Linked DNA regions of Homo sapiens: regions 2 and 3 are each linked to region 1. The links come from fine-mapping of genetic effects on gene expression. A gene starts in region 1. Each other region holds a variant in brackets. All regions are shown on one strand. Distances are from middle to middle.

Region 1 (6,457 bases):
CATGGGCATCGTGGAGAGCAGCCTGCACAGTCAGCATTCTTAAATCCTACACACAGACAGAGGAGATGCGGATTGGAAACGGTCCCTTAGAAAGATCACTAGAAGGAAATACATAAAAATATCCACAGGTCTATTCCTGACTAGTGAGATGTCAGGTGGCTTATGTTCTTCTCTCACCATTCTTGCATCTTCCAAATTCTGTACAAGAAACATTAATTACATTTATATTAAAAAGCTATTAAAATATAAAACAAGGCTCTGATCAAGTCTAAAATATTTTATGAGAGCCTGATGAAAAGAGCAAGTAATTATTAATTCACAAGTATTTCAGTGCCTGTGTGCTGGGCACCATGCTAAAGATAAAACAATGAACAAGAGGACAGCTCTGTTGTTTGACAAAAAGGAGCGGAGGCTGGTTTGGCAAGGGAGGGATGTAGGGCTTGTGGGACACAATGGCAGGAGATGAGGCTGGAAAGGTCGTTTGGTGCCAGATTACAATGGACTTTATGTGTCTTGTCAAATAATATGGTCTTTATTCTGAAGGCTACAGAGAGGCTTTTGAGGGGGGCAGTGTTAGGTTTGGAATTGTGCTTTACCTGAAGTTAATTTTCGACTGGATTTTGGCAGTAGTGTGGCTGCTGGCCTGGGGGAGTCCAAGCAGGAGACCAGGAGCACAGGCAGCAGGCAAGTGCAGTAACTGAATGAAGGCAGTGCCCTGAGCACGGGCCAGGCCCAGAGATATTTAGGGGTAGCGTCAATAGGATATGACTGATTGGATGTATGTTGCACGAAGTAGGGCATTAAGAAAAAAAAGGAACAACAAACTTCTTCCTGCTTATCAAAGACCATAATGAGGGCAATGGCCTTTCCTGAAACACGTTCCTTGGGAAGTCAAGCATGAGCATCACAATAGTTTGGAAGCTATCTGCACCCAGCAAGTGAGTTTCCAGTTAGCCTCACGCATGGCAATAGGTGCTTAGGATGCAGGATGCAGGTTCGTGGCCCCGGCCCTGTCTGGCTCCCCTGAAATCACACCACAGAGGCAGCTGCCTTTCGTAAACACAAGGCAGGCAGTGTTAGCTGGTCCAACTAGACCTCATTCTTTCTTTCACCTGGGGCCTGTGCACGGAGGCTGCTGACATGAGTGGACTCCCACGTGTGTGGTGAACGAGAAGTTCAAAGTGACACTTTGCATTCTTCCCTTCTTCTCCACTCTCCTCTTCCCGCTCCAGGAAAAATAAAGGAAGATGATTGTTTTGGTACAGGAAAAAAAAAATGAATACTAGGTTTTTAACTTGTGTCCCGGGTTGGGTAAAGAATGACAACTATTCTATAGTTTGTATAGACTTTCCCTTAGTGGTCATTGCTATATGACATAAGAAAGTCAGTGCCTGGGCCAGGCACTGTCACAGGCCTGTAGTCCCAGCTACTTGGGAGGTTGAAGCAGGAGGATCGCTTAAGGCCAGGAGTTCAAGGTTACAGTAAGCTATGATAGCACAACCTGAGTGACAGAGCAAGACCCTCTCTTTTTTTTTTTTTTTTTTTTTTGAGACAGAGTTTCGCTCTTGTTGCCCAGGCTGGAGTGCAATGGCACAATCTCGGCTCACCACAACCTGCGCCTCCTGGGTTCAAGCAATTCTCCTGCCTCAGCCTCCCAAGTAGCTGGGATTAGAGGCATGCGCCACCAAACCTGGCTAATTTTGTATTTTTAGTAGAGATGGAGTTTCTCCATGTTGGTCAGGCTGGTCACAAACTCCCGACCTCAGGTGATCCTCCTGCCTTGGCCTCCCAAAATGCTGGGATTACAGGCATGAGCCACTGCACCCGGCCTACCCTGTCTCTTAAAAAAAAAAAAAAGTGAGTATTATAATAGAGGGGATAAGGAATAATGTGTATGTGAGGTCTATTTCTGAGACCAGAGCCACAAAACAGAATCCTGCACCTTAGCCATTTTCTTACCACACGCGTTTTCTTGGATACTTCCATTTTTCCAGTCTATATAATTCAATACTTCTGTGACAGAGAGGTGTTGGAGTTTTTTGTTTTGCTTTTGTTTTTTCGCAACTCTTTACATACAAACAGCTATGGTCTCCCAGGAAGGAACTTCCTCTGTTGAGTACAGAAGTCTGGGAAAAGACTGGTGAAATTGCATGCGAGGAAGAAACAGGTCTAACTAAATGTGAATCTATACTTTTAAAGCAAGGGACCACAAAGGGTAGGTCCCAAGGAAGTTGCATTGCTTGCTGCACTTGTCACACGGGCTGTACTTTCTTCTCTCATTTATTTCCATTTACAGCGTTGAAAACTGAGGCCTTAGGCTTTGGTTGAAAACCGAGGCCAAGGGTGACCAGCCAGTGAGTTAAGGAGGCCCCAGCCGAACTTTGCTGGAAGTGCTCCAGCATAAAGCCTCTCTCCAGAACCAGCCGCCACTGAGACGTCTTGAAGTCAAAGTAACTCACACCCTTGTCCACCTCGCCCTGCGGTGAAGAAACTTCGGTCGCACAGGCTCCAGAACTCATCTTGGCGTGGGCTGTGACTTACTGGGGGATGGGCCTCCTTTTCGTTCTAGCTCCTAAATGGAGCGGAGCGCCAGGTGGTGTCAGAGGGGGCGGCGGCCCCTCCAATGGTGGCACCCTCAGCCACGGATAAGGTTCCAATTAGGTAAGGACGCAAGTAATGCTGTCGTTTCGGCTGACTGCTCCTTTCATTCCTTGGAGGTGGTCGGTGTCACAAAACGAATTTTCATTTACTCTCAACAGTCACACCAGCCCTGCTAACTGGATGGTCGCAGCCCCGTGCCTTCGCCGGACGCCCTCCTGGAACCTTCAGGCCACCCTGAGGATGGAGACTCGGGTGCCCGCTCTCCTCCCCTACCGCCGCGGGCCTGCGCCCCCCGCCCCGGACCCCGACTCGGACGTTCTAGCCGCACGTGCGGGCGCCCCTGGGTGCGAGCCGCGGACTCACGAGCCGCTGCTTGTTGCTCCCGCCGCCGCGACCTGGGGAAGCGAAAATGAAATTGACTTTTCCGAGAAATGATGAAAGCGGCGCTGCCCGCCAATGAGCTGCTGCGGCGAACTTCCGCACCTCCCGGCCGGGCCGCTCGCGCCCTCCCTCCGCCTCCACCTCCCGGTTGCACAAGCTTGAAACAAACACTGGGGAGGAAGGGCGGAGGGAGGAGGGCGGAGAGGGGAGGCGAGGGAGGGAGCGCGGCCGGAGGAGGGCGGGGGGTGGGGGGATTTCCAGCCGCGGCTCTTCGCAGTTTCCTCTCCTTGTTTTGCTTTCGATCTGGACTGTTCTCAGGCAAGCCGGGGAGTAACTTTTAGTTTTGCTCCTGCGATTATTCAACTGACGGGCTTTCATTTCCATTTCACATACCCTAGCAACACTTATACCTTGCGGAATTGTATTGGTAGCGTGAAAAAAGCACACTGAGAGGTAACATTTTTCAAATAATAGTTGTGACTGTGTGTGTTTCTCTCGAGGGCATGTTTCTGGGGACTGTGGGGGGCCGTGTGTGTATGCGTGTCCTGATGCCTTGACACGATGTTTTGCAGACGGAAAATGCCGGGGTTCATAAATATTAATACTGATTTTTGGAGGAACAGTCGGCGCAATTATGGATCATCTGATTTTAGGGGAAGCAGGTTCTGCTGCTGTTGCTGCTGCTACTGGGGCTGCTGAGGCTGCGAGGAGGAGGAGGAGGAGGAGGTAGAGAGGGAGGAGGAGGAGGAGGTTGGTGGAGGTTTAATTTCACTTTTGGATTTGCAGATGCGGAGAGGTGGCTCCATGGACACAGACCTGCTGTGTGTGCTTCTGCGCCCCAGGTGTTGTGTGTGGGGGTGCAGGTCAGCTGGAGTCGGGCCTCATTTAAAACAAAATTGTGTGTATGTGCGTGTTTGTGTGTGCGCGCGTGTGTGTGTGTGCAGCCACCGCCGCCACCGGATCCGAAGGAGGGGAGCGGGTCCTTCTCGGTGCCCGCGGCGGCGCCTCTCCAGGCTGCCTCCAGCGTAAATAAGCAGGCACCGCTCCCCGGCCGGGAGGAGCGCCTCCAGCCACGGCCAGAGGAAACTTGCTGGGGCGCCCCGCGGCGGTCCAGGGGCTCGCCTGCCTGCCGGGCTCGGGGTCGGGTCGCGGGCGTCGGGTGCCAGCGGCCGGGGCGGGAGGGCGGGCTCGGAGCCGGGCCGGGCGCCGGGCCTGGCCGACGCGCCCTGCTTCCTGGGGGCTGGGCCGCCGCCGCCGCCGCTCAGAAGGGACGCCGCGTCCTCCTTCCCGCCGGCCAGCGCCCGGTCGGGCCCTGGGGCTTTGTCATTGCACTTGTCCCAGCGCGCCAGGGGCTCGGGCGGCGCGTCCCAGGAAGGCACCGTGCCGAGGGGTCAGCCGCCCGGGCCGCGGCCTAGCGCCGTGCGCCCCCGGGTCCCCGCAGGCGCCCCCGGCCGGCCTCGCGCGCTGGGCCTGACCCGCCTCGGCTACGGAGCGGGCGAGGTGGGGGCGGGGAGCCTCCGGGGACCGAGCGGCGCAGTGGGGGCCGGCGTCCCCTCGGGGTCCCGGGGCGCGGGCCGCGGCGGGGTGGGGACGCGAGTGCCCGCCCCGTGCCCTCCGACCCGGCTCCGGGCGCCGGGTGACATTCGCCCGCTGGCCGAACATGGTTGGTGCAAAGCCGCGGCGGCCGCCACTTCCTTTCCGCCTCGCCGGTAGGGCTCGCCCACCGAGTGAAGCCGGCCGCGGCCAATCGCGGCGCCCGCCTGCTCCCAGTGGCACGGCCTGGGGGCCGGCGTCCGCCGGGGCTGGGGAAGCCGTTCCAAGTTCCAAGGGTCGCGGGTGTAACTCATGCCCCTCCCAGCACGCGCCGGCGTCTCCCCTTGGCCCCCGGTCTGGGTGCGTTTGCCACCCTCTCCTCCTTGTTCCCTAAGAAGCGGGGGAGGGGAAGGAGGCGGGCAGCCTGGGCAGGGCGCCAGAGCCGTGGTCGGGCACCAGGTGAAACGCCCGGGTCAGTCTGTGTAGGCCGGACCCTTGGCGCTCGGCTGCGGATGTGATCCCGGGGACTGGCGGCCGAGGTAGCTCAGAAGAGCGAGGTGGCTTTCGCTCGTTTCTGACCCGCTACTGTCTGAAACTTGGGGACATATTGCCCGCCCCCTCCCTCTTCAACCTCCTCCCTCCGGTTGCTCCTTGTCCTTGGTTATGGAAGGAAAAAACTCAGTTGTTCTAAATGAGGAAAAGTGGTGCTGGCATTCGTCTTCAGCCACCGGCCTCCTTATGGCTGTGACTCGGTCTGCTTTTGATGAATGGCCAGGAGGTATGGAGGATAGTTAGATTTCCTGTTGTGGATTTTCAGGCATCACCGAGACTGCTGTCAAGCCTGCAGTCATTTACTAGTTTTCATATCGACTGCAGGTTCTCTTTGAGCAGTTCAGTTTTTGGTGCTTAAGGGCAGGTGCACAACGGGGTCTGGGGTTAGACCAGGCGGTGGATAGTCTTGATGCTAGGCAGATGCAGTTATCCCTACCAGGCCCAGAGGGTGACTCTGTTTAACTTCACCACGCACGCAGATTCAGGATTCTCTGATTTCCCCAACTTTCCTTTATTCTTCTTTTAGTGGGAGAAGGGGCAAAAGTAGAAACCTAAAAAATCCTGGGAAAAGGAGCCTTTTCTGAGGAAACTTCAGCAGATGAAATATTTAAGACTTGAACTGGGATCTCTAGGGGGAACGTTGGAACATCTATTGATTGATGTGTCAAAGTCCGGAATTTCACTGTAATTAGTGAACGATTATAACTTGTAACTTTGTCTGTTATGTAAGAAATTACATTTTGGTCTCTTAGATCCAAGAGTTCTTGTCTGTTACGATTTGTAACTGCTTGTTAAAATTAAACATTTACATATTTCATTCTCAGTGAGTTGTCATTTTTTTGTTAGAGAAAGTTCCAGTTATTTCAGATTTACTTACCTGTAAAAATGTCAGCATAATCAAAAGTAAGGATCTGTAGTCAAACTGGAAGCAAATTATGGCAAACACATGCGTGCCATGAAGTTCTGACAGCCTTATGAACAATGGTCCCACTTTTATCCCACTTTCTGAAACACTTTATTAGGCAAATAGTGCACCAGAGCAAAAGATGTTTAAACTTACTGGAAAAATAGACACTTTGGATGCTCCACATTTGATGTGCATCAATTTTCTCATGTTACCAACGATGTTATATTTTTATTCTTAACATCATCTCGTACAAAACTGTTGTTTTTAGAGCATTTTCACATAATATCCTTTTGATAGTGAAAAACCACTGTACTCTATCTAAATGGAGTATCTGGGTTATAGTTCCCTTATCTGCCTTATACCAAAAAGGGCTTAACGCAGACAAGAGAATTTATGTACACACTCAATAAATATCCTTAGAACATCTATTATAAGCCAGACACAGTGCTAGCCTCTGTATACTCAACTGACAGCGAGAAAGAC
Region 2 (6,457 bases), 87 kb after region 1:
CAGAGCTGCAGTGAGGAGGGCCCCAGGGACCAGCGCCCCTTCCTGGGAGGTAGTGCCCAGTGTATACACAGCCCGGCCCTGGCCAAGGGAGCCTCCTCACAGCTCTCAAGCCTGGTTTCTCCGAAGATTACAGAGTTGAAATTCACTCTAGCTTCTCCCATGTAGAATGTTTCGCTTTACAAAGGGAGGGAGGTGATGCGTTTAGTTACTCAGTCTCCTTTTTATAAACACTGCCTGAGCCTGGGGACAGCTTGAGGGACAGGAATGATGGCCCTGTGTTTTTCTCTCTGTGAACAGAAAGCGAAACGACTGATAGTGTGCCCAGCGATGAAGAGAGTGCCGAGGTAAGCCACTGCCCAGCCTGCCCACGATGCTGCCAAGGAAAAGCCTCCCGACCAGCTCCGGGCTTTCCTTGCTGCTGGTTATGCACCTTTCCTTTAGATCACAAGCTTCACTTTGGGATTTTCTTGTGTGGTGAAATATGCATCACCAGAATTTACCATACTTTTGGGTTTGGGGTTATAAAATTCGGCGTTGGAACTGAAAGGAGGAAAGGGAGTTAAATGTTACCATCAGGTAGAGAAGCTGTGATAGCAGGAAAAGGGAATTGAAGTGGAGGCTGGGAAATGCCGATGCTCTTACCACTTAAACATCCTACTTCACCGGCAAAAATAGAGCAGCCTTCCCAGCCAAAAGCAGTGACCAGTACACGTCACAAAATGCTAAGCAAAAGCCTCTTCCACGTGTGCGTGGGTTCCCTCCCGCTGTGACCCGTGCCCAGAGCTGGTTGTGTGCCCCATCTCGATTCCGAGTGGGTCCCGTCCCCTCTCCCTCCCATAGATGGGGCGTGCACAATGGCAGAAAGTGGCTGGAATGGAGATGGAAAGCATTCCTGCTGGCCACCTGCTGGGGGTCTGCGCTTGAGTGAATGAGAGAGAGAGAGGGAGGGAGCAAGAGAGAGGGAAGCTCATGGTTGTTTGAATTAGTGGTTTCCCATGTACTAAACACTTTGAGAAAAAGTGCAGGGATTCTGAAAAGACAGATGTACACGCTCCCATACACCCTGGCCTGATTTCTTCAAGGTTGCAGCTCTAGCCACTTCTCTGAATGAAGCCAGCCCTGAGGCCGCTGCTTGCTGTACACCGTGGAGCTCTAAGCCGCCCCCATTTGAAAGCAATCAAGGGGCATTCATTGCCTGTCACTAAGTTCCTCGCTGCCTTTTCTCTGAAAATGCAGGTTGGCTCAGGTTGACTGGGCCAGCATTGAGGGACCGAGTCGCTGTGCCACACTGGCCATGGTGACCTGAAACCTATCGAATAATCGGGCCGAGCCGCAGAGCACAAGGGAACCAGAAACCAAGCTGCTGCCTTCTTTTCCTGCCTTCACAGAGTAGTCTGGAAAGTATTTCTGGGAGGTAGCAAATGGGAATTGATTTTTTAAAAAAAAAGAAAAGGGAAGAAAAACCATTACTTGGCATATGAATAGCTGGGTGCAATAGATTTCAGTTGAGGGATGTAGAGGTGCTAAGCCTTTGTTCATTCTGCAGTTCTTAAGAAACTCAGCTAAAGCACCAACACATGGGAACGACACATTTTTCATTTTAAAATTTTTTTTGTGGGTTGTTGTTTTGAGACAAGGTCTCATTCTGTTGCCCTGGCTGGAGTGCAGTGGCGCAATCATAGCTGACTGAGGCCTTGACTTACTGCGCTCCAGTGATCCTCCCGCCTCAGCCTCCCGAGTTGCTGGGGCTAAAGGTGTGCACCACCATGCCTAGCTAATTCTTACGTTTTGTAGAGATGAGGACTCGCTACATTGCCCAGGCTGGTCTCAAACTCCTGAGGTTAAGTGATCCTCCAGCCTCAGCCTCCCAAAGTGCTGGGATTACAGGCATGAGCCACCACACCTGGCCAGTGATGCATTTTTAAAAAGCCATCCAATAGAAGGAGAAGGAAATACATATCTTAATTACTTTCTTGAAAGGGGCGGCCACACTGGCGGAAGAGGAATATTGAAGGCAAACAGTACCTCAGCAACATGGGGACTCGAGGCTCCTACCTGCTGCCCGGCATGGCGTCCTTCGTCACTTCCAACAAACCGGACCTCCAGGTCACCATCAAAGAGGAGAGCAATCCGGTGCCTTACAACAGCTCCTGGCCCCCTTTTCAAGACCTCCCCCTTTCTTCCTCCATGACCCCAGCATCCAGCAGCAGTCGGCCAGACCGGGAGACCCGGGCCAGCGTCATCAAGAAAACATCGGATATCACCCAGGCCCGCGTCAAGAGCTGTTAAGCCTCTGACTCTCCGCGGTGGTTGTTGGGGCTTCTTGGCTTTGTTTTGTTGTTTGTTTGTATTTTATTTTTTTCTCTCTGACACCTATTTTAGACAAATCTAAGGGAAAAAGCCTTGACAATAGAACATTGATTGCTGTGTCCAACTCCAGTACTGGAGCTTCTCTTTAACTCAGGACTCCAGCCCATTGGTAGACGTGTGTTTCTAGAGCCTGCTGGATCTCCCAGGGCTACTCACTCAAGTTCAAGGACCAACAAGGGCAGTGGAGGTGCTGCATTGCCTGCGGTCAAGGCCAGCAAGGTGGAGTGGATGCCTCAGAACGGACGAGATAATGTGAACTAGCTGGAATTTTTTATTCTTGTGAATATGTACATAGGCAGCACTAGCGACATTGCAGTCTGCTTCTGCACCTTATCTTAAAGCACTTACAGATAGGCCTTCTTGTGATCTTGCTCTATCTCACAGCACACTCAGCACCCCCTTCTCTGCCCATTCCCCAGCCTCTCTTCCTATCCCATCCCATCCCATCCCATCCCATCCCATCCCATCCCGCTCTTTTCCTACTTTTCCTTCCCTCAAAGCTTCCATTCCACATCCGGAGGAGAAGAAGGAAATGAATTTCTCTACAGATGTCCCATTTTCAGACTGCTTTAAAAAAAATCCTTCTAATCTGCTATGCTTGAATGCCACGCGGTACAAAGGAAAAAGTATCATGGAAATATTATGCAAATTCCCAGATTTGAAGACAAAAATACTCTAATTCTAACCAGAGCAAGCTTTTTTATTTTTTATACAGGGGAATATTTTATTCAAGGTAAAATTCTAAATAAAATATAATTGTTTTTTATCTTTTCTACAGCAAATTTATAATTTTAAGATTCCTTTTCTTGTTTATCAGCAGTTGTTATTACATCCTTGTGGCACATTTTTTTTTTTAATTTTGTAAAGGTGAAAAAAGCTTTTATGAGCTCATGTAGCAATCAGATTTTCCTGTGGATTGATAATAAATGAATATGATATATAGTTAAATTTTTAAGGGGCATCACTCCTGGCTTTGTCTGTGTCTGCTTTAAAAGAGCATAATCACGGAATAGGACTGACAAAGGATTGTTTCTTTTTGGGGACCAAAATGTTTTCCCTTGTTGACCACAAGAAACCGTGGAGGTTCTTACTGTGAGGCTTCAGTTGACTTCTTCTCTTGAGTGCTCGCCTGAGCAGGGGCCCGTGCTGAGCGTTTTGCATGACTTCCCGTCTTCATTCATCACACTTGTGCTGTAGAATAGGCATTCATCTCCATTTCATGTGGAGGAAATGAAGACTGAATGTGAAGATGCCTTTACTTGGCTCATAGTGGCACTAAGAGGCAAGGGCACAAGTTGGGCACAAGTTGAGCCCAATTCTCTGTGCTATGAAGGGGGTCTTTTTTCTTGTAAGCATATCCGTTATCTCAAA[T/C]GTCTGTCTTCCTCTGTGTTGGGAGCATTCCCTGTGGAGGGGGAGTATTTTAGCCACGCCACTGGTTTCCTTCTCTGCTGTGAGCAAGGTTCACCCCACTCTGTGTCTTTCCTGTTTTCATCCTTAGGCTTACACGTACGACAAACGTCTTGTGTTTATGTCACTTAGAGGGGTGCATGGATAAGACATTTTCCACAACAGGAAATATGTATTGGGCTCTAACACCATGTCCGTCACTCGTCTTTCTAGGACCCGAGGCCTTACACATAGACCGTGCCCTCAAAACTTGGGGTCTGTCTTGTGGAATAAAAGGGGTGACTTCAAGAACACCAGTCTTTATCAGCCACTTGGTGTTTGAAGGTATAGTCTTGGCCTGGAGAAAGCCACAGCACCAGCCTCCCCTGCATCCCCAGTATCTTACTCTGTAAAATCAGAATATGAAAACTTTGCTACCCGCCTACTACCTCTGGGGGGTTGTGGAGGAGATTGCTAAGTTAATATTTGAAGAGGTTCCTTTAATGAAAGGACAAAAGGCTATTTTTATGCCTATCTCCATGTGTGGCTGCAGATATAATTAGCGGTCATAAAGTTATCCAGCCCTGAATGGAAATCAACTGGAGCATTTTCCTGGCGGATGCGTTGTAGTTGAAATGCCACACACAGAGGCGGGGCTGCTTCTGGAAGGAGCACTTTCGTTGACTGTCTCAGTTTCTCAGTGGAAGGGGAGTTATCAGGAAGAAACAGATGCTCCCTGGCTCCTTGGCACCCGACTTTTCAGTTAAGACCTGCTCTTCCCCCAGGTCCTGAATGGAGAAGTTCAGTTCTTTGAGACTTACATCTAAAATGTTTTACTGAGTCATCCTATTTTAAATAAATTAACAAAACAGCAACGGAAGGTTGCCCTGAGTCACGTGGCCTGGTTATCAAAGGGTTTAAGGTAGCTCAGGTCTCCTCCCCCTTCCTTCTTCCCAACACAGACTCAGGGCTTCTTCCTGCATCTCGGTCCCGAATGCCATTCCTGCTGCCCTCCCCTTGCTTCTGTAGCGTAACTAGACTTCCCAAGGCCCATCAAGTGGAAGAAAATTCAGGACTTGGAAATGCACCATTTAAGTTCCAGAGATGATACTCCATTGCCAATAAGGCCATGAAAAACAGAATCATGTTTAAAATCCTTCTGAGAAAGCCTGTATTGTTTCTAAGTGATACTTGCCAGCAACGCAGGAAAACAAGCTAGTCTCAGGATGCCTGGGGTTGACATGGGGAAGGAAAACAAAGGCATTGGGGCAGCTCCTGGACCCAAGCCTCAGACCTTGTCGTCACTTAGAGGAAGTGCCAGGGACGCATGCTTCTGGTTGGTATTTGTGTGAGCTGATAGGCTTTGATGATGGGCTTGGGTGTGTGTGTGCACGTATGCGTTTAATAGCAAGTTCAAGTTCAGTGTAACTGCCTTTGGAACAATAGTTTCCATTCTCTGCAGCCAGTACCTGGGTCACTCCCTTGATAATGGGCTCACTGTACAGCTGTGAACTGTGAATTCAGGGACATGTATTTCTGCCCAGCCTTGAGGTTGCAAGCACCCAGCACATCCACACACCTCGATGAAAGGGGCTTCTGGAATGCCATTTGCACATCTAAATAAATCCACCCTCAACCGTACTGTTTTGTCCGTGTTTTGATGAACCACTGCCAAAGGTGGTATTTAGTCTATTTCAAAGGATTTGTAAAAAAGAAATACACATGGCTATGGAATACAAATTCTTTGGACATCAAAACCCTAAAACAATACCCTTTCCCCACCCAAATCCCAAGTGTACCGTACTATCATGTAACCACTACTGAGACAGAGATTTTAGAAGTGAAGGAGATGAGTGATTTGATTTCAGGAGTCTGAGTTTTCAAACTTGTGCTTTTGGAAGTGCTTTGCATGTGAATGGAAAGATGGTAAGCCCCAGCTGGCCTCCTGCCCCTAATTCAGAGAGATGGAACATGAGACGTTCCTTCTGCTTGAGGCCACTCTGTAACCTGCGTTCATTAGGCTTTAAAGGCCCCCTGCTATTGTAGTTTTGGACAAATAAGCCCAGATAAAAGGTTAAAAAAAAAAGAACCCCCACTATTCTGCCAGATTTCTCCTGATAAAAGACAAAAGCTAGGGAAAGGTTTACACACAGGTAGCCAAGATGAGTTCATTGGCATTCAGGGGTCAAACAGCTAATGTCTGAGTGCCAGTTTGGTTTGGAGGCACAAACTGGTTTTTACATGGTGCCGTTCAGCCGCCTACCTCACCCTGAAACTCCATCCCACAGTACAATGACGTGCCTGGGGCCAGAGTTATCAGAGCAGGTGGGACGTGACTCTGACCTCCCTCTGTCCCCAGGCTGCAGTGGACCCCTCCCAAGGGCAGTTGGGTGACACCATCAGCTTCTTGAGGCTGCTTCTCACTCATTTGCACCCCAGCATGTGAATCAAGGTTGGGTACTACTAGGCTGTCATCCCTGGGATCTCCTCCTCCCCAGAGCCCCACCATCCCGGTGTCAAAAGAACAGGGCTGGGACTGTTGGCTTCACCCCCTTAGGAATGTGTCCAACCACAGGCCTGGAGAGGAGAGCCCGGCCGTGCGAAGCTTCAGGTCAGGAGATGCAGGAAGCTGGCAGGAGTCAGGGGGAGATGCTTTTTCGTGAGGCTGTCTGGCCTCTGGGTCCCCACTGGCCCCATGGGA
Region 3 (6,457 bases), 140 kb after region 1:
CTCTTTCTTCCTTCTGCTCTGAGTATGTGATGCGCCTCACTCTCCTTTTGCCTTCCACATGACCGGAAGTTTCCTGAGGTCTCCGGAGAAGCAGAAGCTGCCACGCTTCCTGTGCAGCCTGCAGAGCCGTGAGCCAATTAAACCTCTTTTCTTTATAAATTACCCAGTCTCAGGTATTTCTTTATGGCAAAGTGTGAACAGACTAATACAACCATGAACATAAAAATACTCAGTAATAGTTTCTGAATTATGGAAGGATTAGGAAAAAAGATAAATGTTCCATTTTTGTTATAGAAATGTATCTACTAAATTGTTACATATTATAGCTAACTTAAGAGAAAAAGAAAAGGGGTTCCTTATGTCCAGAAAATAGAACATTAAGAACAAGCAATGTTCCAAACAAAAAGCCATAAAAATTATACTCCTTCTTTAGTTGATTCAGTCCTATGTAATTAATTCTTGTTTTGCTTGATCATGGGTTAGCAGTTTCATGAACTCAACTAGAGTTTCGAAAACCCTCACTCAGTCCAGCAGTATGATATTCAAGTTTTTTAGGCCATGTCAGTATCAGATGGGGGCTGGGGAGGTTGATGGGTAGAAAATTATTAAGAGAAGTAATTACCAAGAAAAATATCAAGGGGAGGGGAATTCTTGCTAAACTGACTTTAACAGGATTCTTGCTGAAGGCAGACCAGTGTGGTCAGAGGTCAAGGTTGAGGGACTCTCACTAAATTGGCTTAGCAGGATCCCTGCTAAAACTGGACTAGGCAGGCTGAAGCCTGGGTCCAGGGATGAGTCCTGTTAAAAAGAGGGCTGAGAGGGGCCTTCTAAAGTTTGGTCACTGAGACTGTCTTTGTCAAGGGCCCTTCCTATGTAGTATTTATGACGGTATTTTGTCTGGCATTAATAGAGTTAATATTGTGTGCCTTTCACAGCAAATCAAAAAATATCAGAGCATTTAAGAGTATCAAGATATCATGTTGACCTTGGAACTGATAGCTTGAAGCAAAAAAATAAAAAAATTGCTGCTTAATTCCTCTGATAAGCTCTTGAAATAACTGAACTCTAACCCTGGTAACCGTCACCTACTTCACAAGGTTGATGGAAGGCACAGGTAAGAAGAGAAAGCCATAACTGTTTGAAGATGGGCAGATTCTGACCAAGACTCCAGACTGTAAGGCCAGGAAAGAGAGAGGGCTTTCCTAAGTCTTGAGCCCAGGTGTATGCCTGGATCCCCAGTCTGGGCTCTGGCAAGAGACAATCAAAGATCCCAGCAAAAATATTACACTGTTCCAATTCATGGTTAAAAATGTTGGCATAGGTAGTGGTATTTATCTCTGGGTTTTTAATTGACAACCAGGAGCAGCGAGTTAATATTGAAGAGCCCTATTCAGGAATGAATATACACACTCCAGGGGTGGTCTGTTGGAATTTGAAAGACTATTAAGAGGCTCCTCCTTTGGGAGGCCGAGGCAGGCAGATCAGGAGGTCAGGAGATCGAGACCATCCTGGCTAACATGGTGAAAACCCATCTCTACTAAAAATACAAAGAATTAGCTTGGTGTGGTGGCACACGCCTGTATTCCCAGCTACTCGGGAGACTGAGGCAGGAGAATCGCTTGAACCTGGGAGGTGGAGGTTGCAGTGAGCCGAGATCATATCACTGCACTCCAGCCTGGGCGACAGAGCTGGACTCGGTCTCAAAAAAAAAAAAAAAAAAAGAAGAAGCAGCTCCTGCTCTAGAGAGTCAGCTATAAGAACTTCCTCTATCCTCAATGAACACCAACAGCTTTGCTATCTGGCATAATGGATTTTAGGAGTCATTTTCATTGGTGAAGTAAGAGTTGTTCAAAATATTATGGGCTGACTGGAAGCACTGTATCAGATTGCATCTCCTTGCATAAACAGGGTATTATGACCTAGAAAGCCTAGTGGATAATGTATGCCCTTCCAAATGCTGTCTCTGGTTTGGGATTTGAATCAGGACTTGTATCCACAGCTCATAGAAAGGTTCCTGCACCTGACCCTGACTAGACATGAAGCTAAATCATGCTGTTCGAGTACTGTCACATCTGCCTTAAGTGAATCTGTTATGTAAGGCACCTGTCAGTGTGCCAGCAGAACAAAGCACCAGTACTTGGTTGAGTTTACAGAACTGGTTGTACCACGTTTTTGAGCCTGCTGGCTTCTAAATGTTTATTTTATGGCCGAATTCCGTCTGAGACTTGCTTTCATTGTAACATACCACCTGGTATGAAGCTGAGGAGACCTATAGCCCTCACCTACATCTATTATGGGCCCACATACATGTGTTTGTGTTTCTTAGCTTAGGGAGGTTTCAGAAGCCCCGAGGCTGGAGTAAAGCATGGTTACGGACTCTTGTTGTAGCAGAAATGTTGCTTACTGTCTTTCTATGACCCTTTGTATTTCTGTGTATTGGTTCTTCACCACTAATAATAAACCGCCTCAGTTCTTTTCTTAGAAGGACGTTGAACACTAACTATACGGCATTGAGCTAGGGATGAATTAAAGGGGAGCTCCCTGGAACTCCAGGAACTGTTTTCAAAATGTGCCTGTTTGTGTTTATATGGTAACGTTTGGCTGAATCCATTTCACCTTCTGAGTAACACTTAAGGCAAAGCTGAAATTCTTGCTGTCAACAAAACCCCCAAGACTACAATTTCTACCCAGCCTCTTTCAAAAAGCATGGAAAACCTCCTCCATTCCAGCTTATTTTTGCATTGAGGCTGGTATTTCATTTGTTTGTTCTTTCGCTTTCTTTAAGCACCACTGCCCAGCAGTGTGGCGTGAGTACTGCTTGCTTTCTGCTCCCAGTCTCACTTTTTTTTT[T/C]TTTTTTTTTTGAGACAGAGTTTTGCTTTGTCACCCAGGCTAGAGTGCAGTGGTGTGATCTTGGCTCACTGCAGCCTCCACCTCCTGGGTTCAAGTGATTCTCCTGCCTCAGCCTCCTGAGTAGCAGGGATTACAGGTGTGCACCACCACACCCAGCTAATTTTTGCATTTTTTGTAGAGATGAGGTTTCACCATGTTGGTCAAGCTGGCCTCAAACTCCTGACTTCAGGTGATCTGCCTGCCTCAGCCTCCCAAAGTGTTGGGATTATGGGCGTGAGCCACCTCGCCTGGCCCCAGTCTCTCATCTTTGTACCACACATATAACTTTGGTTTTGTAAGTAAGAAAATGCTTACTCCTTGCTGTTGACTACACTGTGAGATTCCTTTTGAGAACCCCACAAATAAAGTCAATACAACCATCAGGAATCCTTAGACTCATTAAAATTCCAGACCCTGTAAAAACAATATTTCCTGTTGAATCTCAACATGAACAAAGAGTGATCAACTGAGAGTCAAACGTGACTGTGGGATGAGTGAGTTTGGACATTAACCACATGATGTGTAGAGGAGGCACATCTCTTGTTGACACTCGCTTGTCCATGTGACACTTCTGCTTTCCTGACACGCACTCATGGATACCACGAGTGTGTGTGTCATGGGAAGTGCACGCCACCGAGCGGGCGCGGGGGCTGACCGGGCTGGGTCACTGCAGTGAAAAGTCATGTGGAAAAAGCTACCATTCATTTAATTGTTTTCACTTCTCACCTTGAACTCAGCTTTGTGACCACTCTGTGAAAACAAAACCAACACAGGTATCCTGCCACAGAATCGCCATGTGTTAAAAGATTCCACAGAGGTGTGACTGGACAGCAAACAGCGTTTTTCAGAGAGCTCCCTGTTAGTGGCAAAATGAACATTCCCTTAGGAGGGCAGATCCCTTTTCTCAAAAGGCCAGAGGATGGGGATGCGGAAGGGGGTTGACTGTCTGATTGGGATTTATGCCAGTGGAATGCAGCCAAGTTGTGCTTATAAAGGCCTTATTCTTCCTCAGGTCAGAGCAGTACTACTGGGAGAGCCAAGGCGCTTCTCTGGATGCACTCAACTACAGGGATCTTTCTTTTGTACATGCTTGAATATTTACCATTAGGTTTGATGTAGTGGAAAGACTCCTGGATTTGGAATCGGAAACTCTGAACGAGAAGACACTTATTTTGTCACGGTACGGGAGGAAATGTATCTTCCTTGCCCATCTCAGGTTCAGGGCTGAGGCCCATATAAGAAAAGACAGATTAAGAAGAGAAAAGTATACACATTTAGTTAATCTAAGTTTTACTTGACACGGGAACCTTCATAAGGAAATGACCCAGAGAAACAGTTCAGCCTGGCTTCTTTTGTACAACAGGTTTGACGAGAAGTGGCCAGGTGTGCGGAAACGTGATTGGGGAAAGAGTGTGGTCTGATGGGAATAAACTGGGGGAAACTGAGCAAGGCCTGTTTGTTCAGCTTCTTCTTTGTCTTCAGAAATAAGGATGTTCCCTTTCTCCGGGTCTAGGGAGGGCACCGCTCACAGGAGGGTCTTACGATGACCTGCTTCAGGAGAAGGTCAGAAAATCCTTCTTAGGTTTTACGACCTGATTCAGCAGGCAAGGTGAGGGGAAAGGTGAGAGGGAGCTTCTTGCACGTGCCATCTCTCAGATTCCTTCAGCTTAAGATATTCAGTGTGTCAAGGTACCACAGTTTGGGGTAGCATGTCCTGAACCCTGTCATTACTTAACCATTCTGAGCCTAGAGCTGTCTTTTGTAAAATGCAGATAATATCCCACGCCTTACAGGACAGTTCAATCAGAGGAATAAATAAAAGTGCCTATGCAGGTACCTGGAGCATAGTACATGCTCAATAAATGTTTTTGCTCTCAATCTAATTTTAAAATTAATTATATCGGTGTAATCCTTCCATAGCTCTTATTTAATTTTTATGTTTGACTCCCCAAGGAGGTTGTAAATACATCCTAGAGGGAAGGGACCTTAGATTATCTTTTTATGAAAAGTCAACAGCAGTAAGTGAAAGAAATCACTGTACATTAAATTTTTTTGTCAAATGAATGTCACTGCTTTCTAAAAGTACTTAAAAAACACTGATATTATGCAACTTCCTCCTAGCTCTGGAGACATCCTGGAGGTTACCCTTATGACTCAACTAAGAAAGCCCCTCAGGACTGAGGATGGGACAACTGGGATGTAATTGGGAATTGAGGGGGTGATGGAGAGATCCACTCTCCATACTGTTCTCTAGGAACAGCGGGGACACACCTGCTGCTCTTGTTCATCAGCTCGTCAGCCATCAGGCTGCCCCTTTGCTCTTGCTTTTAATACACTAGCACCTGTGCAGGAAAACAGAAGAAAAGAACACACATTCTTCAGGCCTTTGTGATCCCTCCTGTGTTCATTCGAGTGAACTAGAGAACCAGAGCTGGGAAAACCCCCATGGCGATGCATGCAAAGACATGCACACAGGTGACTCCTGTCTGGGTACTAGCTGGAACAACAAACACTATGCTATACGTTCTCTGAGGTCCACGTGGTTGAACTTGAGTCTGAGAAAGCATCTTGTCTGATGGGTTCACCCAGAAGCATCTCAGGTCAGGACAGAAAAATCCTGACATCAGGAGCATCCATGCTGCTTTGCCTTGACCAACCGGTCACCCTGAGTGTGATGGAAACTAGATTTACTCTGGCTATTGAGGCATGGTCTTTCTCTTGCTCTCTTTAATAGAACTTCCTTCTTTCACTAACAATGAGGTTGAGAAAGTATGTTGAGGCTTAAATATTTCAACAAGACGGAGCGCCAAAAGCCAGGAGCTTCCCAGTATTTCTGAAGCTCTTTCCGCTTTTCCAGAATCAACCCCCTTTTTCTATTTACTGTCATCCATTAAAATATAATGCTCTGTCAACACCACTGTTTCTGTTTTGAATCTTCCAAGCCTGGGTTTGGTAAACAGTTTTCAATTCATTGACTGTTAATCATTCATTTATCTGCATGTTCAATGACACCAGCATTTGCTGTGTTCTTCCTATGTGCTGGTCGCCGGGTTTTACAGATGAACAAAATGAAGCTCAGAGGATAATCACTTCTCCAGTGGCAGCTGCTAAGCAGCAGAGCTGGGATTTGAAAGAAGCTACTCAGGCTTTAAGTCCCATGTATTTTATTCAATACACCTAATTTCAACATCTAGCAAAAATAGAAAACTGATGATAATCTACCTGTAATTATGGATACTTTCATTCTTTTTTTATTTTAATTTTTTTTGAGGCAGAGTCTTGCTCTGTGGCCCAGCCTGGAGTGGAGTGGTATGGTCTCGGCTTACTGCAACCTCTGCCTCCTGGGTTTGAGCAATTCTCCTGCCTCAGCCTCCTGAGTACTGGGACTACATGCATGTGCTACCACACCTAGCTAATTTTTGTATTTTTAGTAGAGACGGGGTTTTGCCACTTTGGCCAGGCTGGTCTCAAACTCCTGACCTTAGGTGATCTGCCTGCCTTGGCCTTCCAAAGTGCTGGGATTACAGGAGTGAGCCACTGCACCTGGCCTATCCTTTCACTCTTAAAG

Direction of the effects. Alleles are on the strand shown, and positions count from the first base shown. SD is a standard deviation of normalised expression in the study named. Not every link is listed here.
For the expression in monocytes after LPS of the gene that starts at base 3,264 in region 1, allele C in region 3 goes with a lower level than allele T (moderate effect, 0.70 SD a copy in Fairfax 2014).

The links.
Region 2: its variant is fine-mapped to the expression of IRF2 in whole blood (TOPMed, PIP above 0.99).
Region 3: its variant is fine-mapped to the expression of IRF2 in monocytes after LPS (Fairfax 2014, PIP 0.95).

What each region holds. Positions count from the first base shown.
Region 1 is chr4:184,471,357-184,477,813 of GRCh38, reverse strand. It overlaps IRF2 (interferon regulatory factor 2), which reads left to right and starts at 3,264. Exons shown (of 9, transcript NM_002199.4): 1 at 3,264-3,435. It overlaps IRF2-DT (IRF2 divergent transcript), which reads right to left and starts at 3,012. Exons shown (of 1, transcript NR_186573.1): 1 at 510-3,012. RefSeq lists enhancers at 2,226-2,555, 2,906-3,095 and silencers at 3,126-3,245, 4,056-4,105, 4,186-4,875, 4,936-5,005.
Region 2 is chr4:184,384,590-184,391,046 of GRCh38, reverse strand. IRF2 (interferon regulatory factor 2) reads left to right here. Exons shown (of 9, transcript NM_002199.4): 8 at 298-344; 9 at 1,981-3,318. The coding sequence ends at 2,289. Among named protein-coding and RNA genes, the nearest start is that of LINC02362, 5.5 kb to the right of the region's middle. RefSeq lists enhancers at 443-1,176, 1,177-1,910, 3,916-4,674, 6,193-6,457. The variant T/C (reference allele first, on the strand shown) is at 3,742.
Region 3 is chr4:184,327,227-184,333,683 of GRCh38, reverse strand. No RefSeq gene overlaps it. Among named protein-coding and RNA genes, the nearest start is that of MYL12BP2, 16 kb to the right of the region's middle. RefSeq lists an enhancer at 5,120-5,679. The variant T/C (reference allele first, on the strand shown) is at 2,851.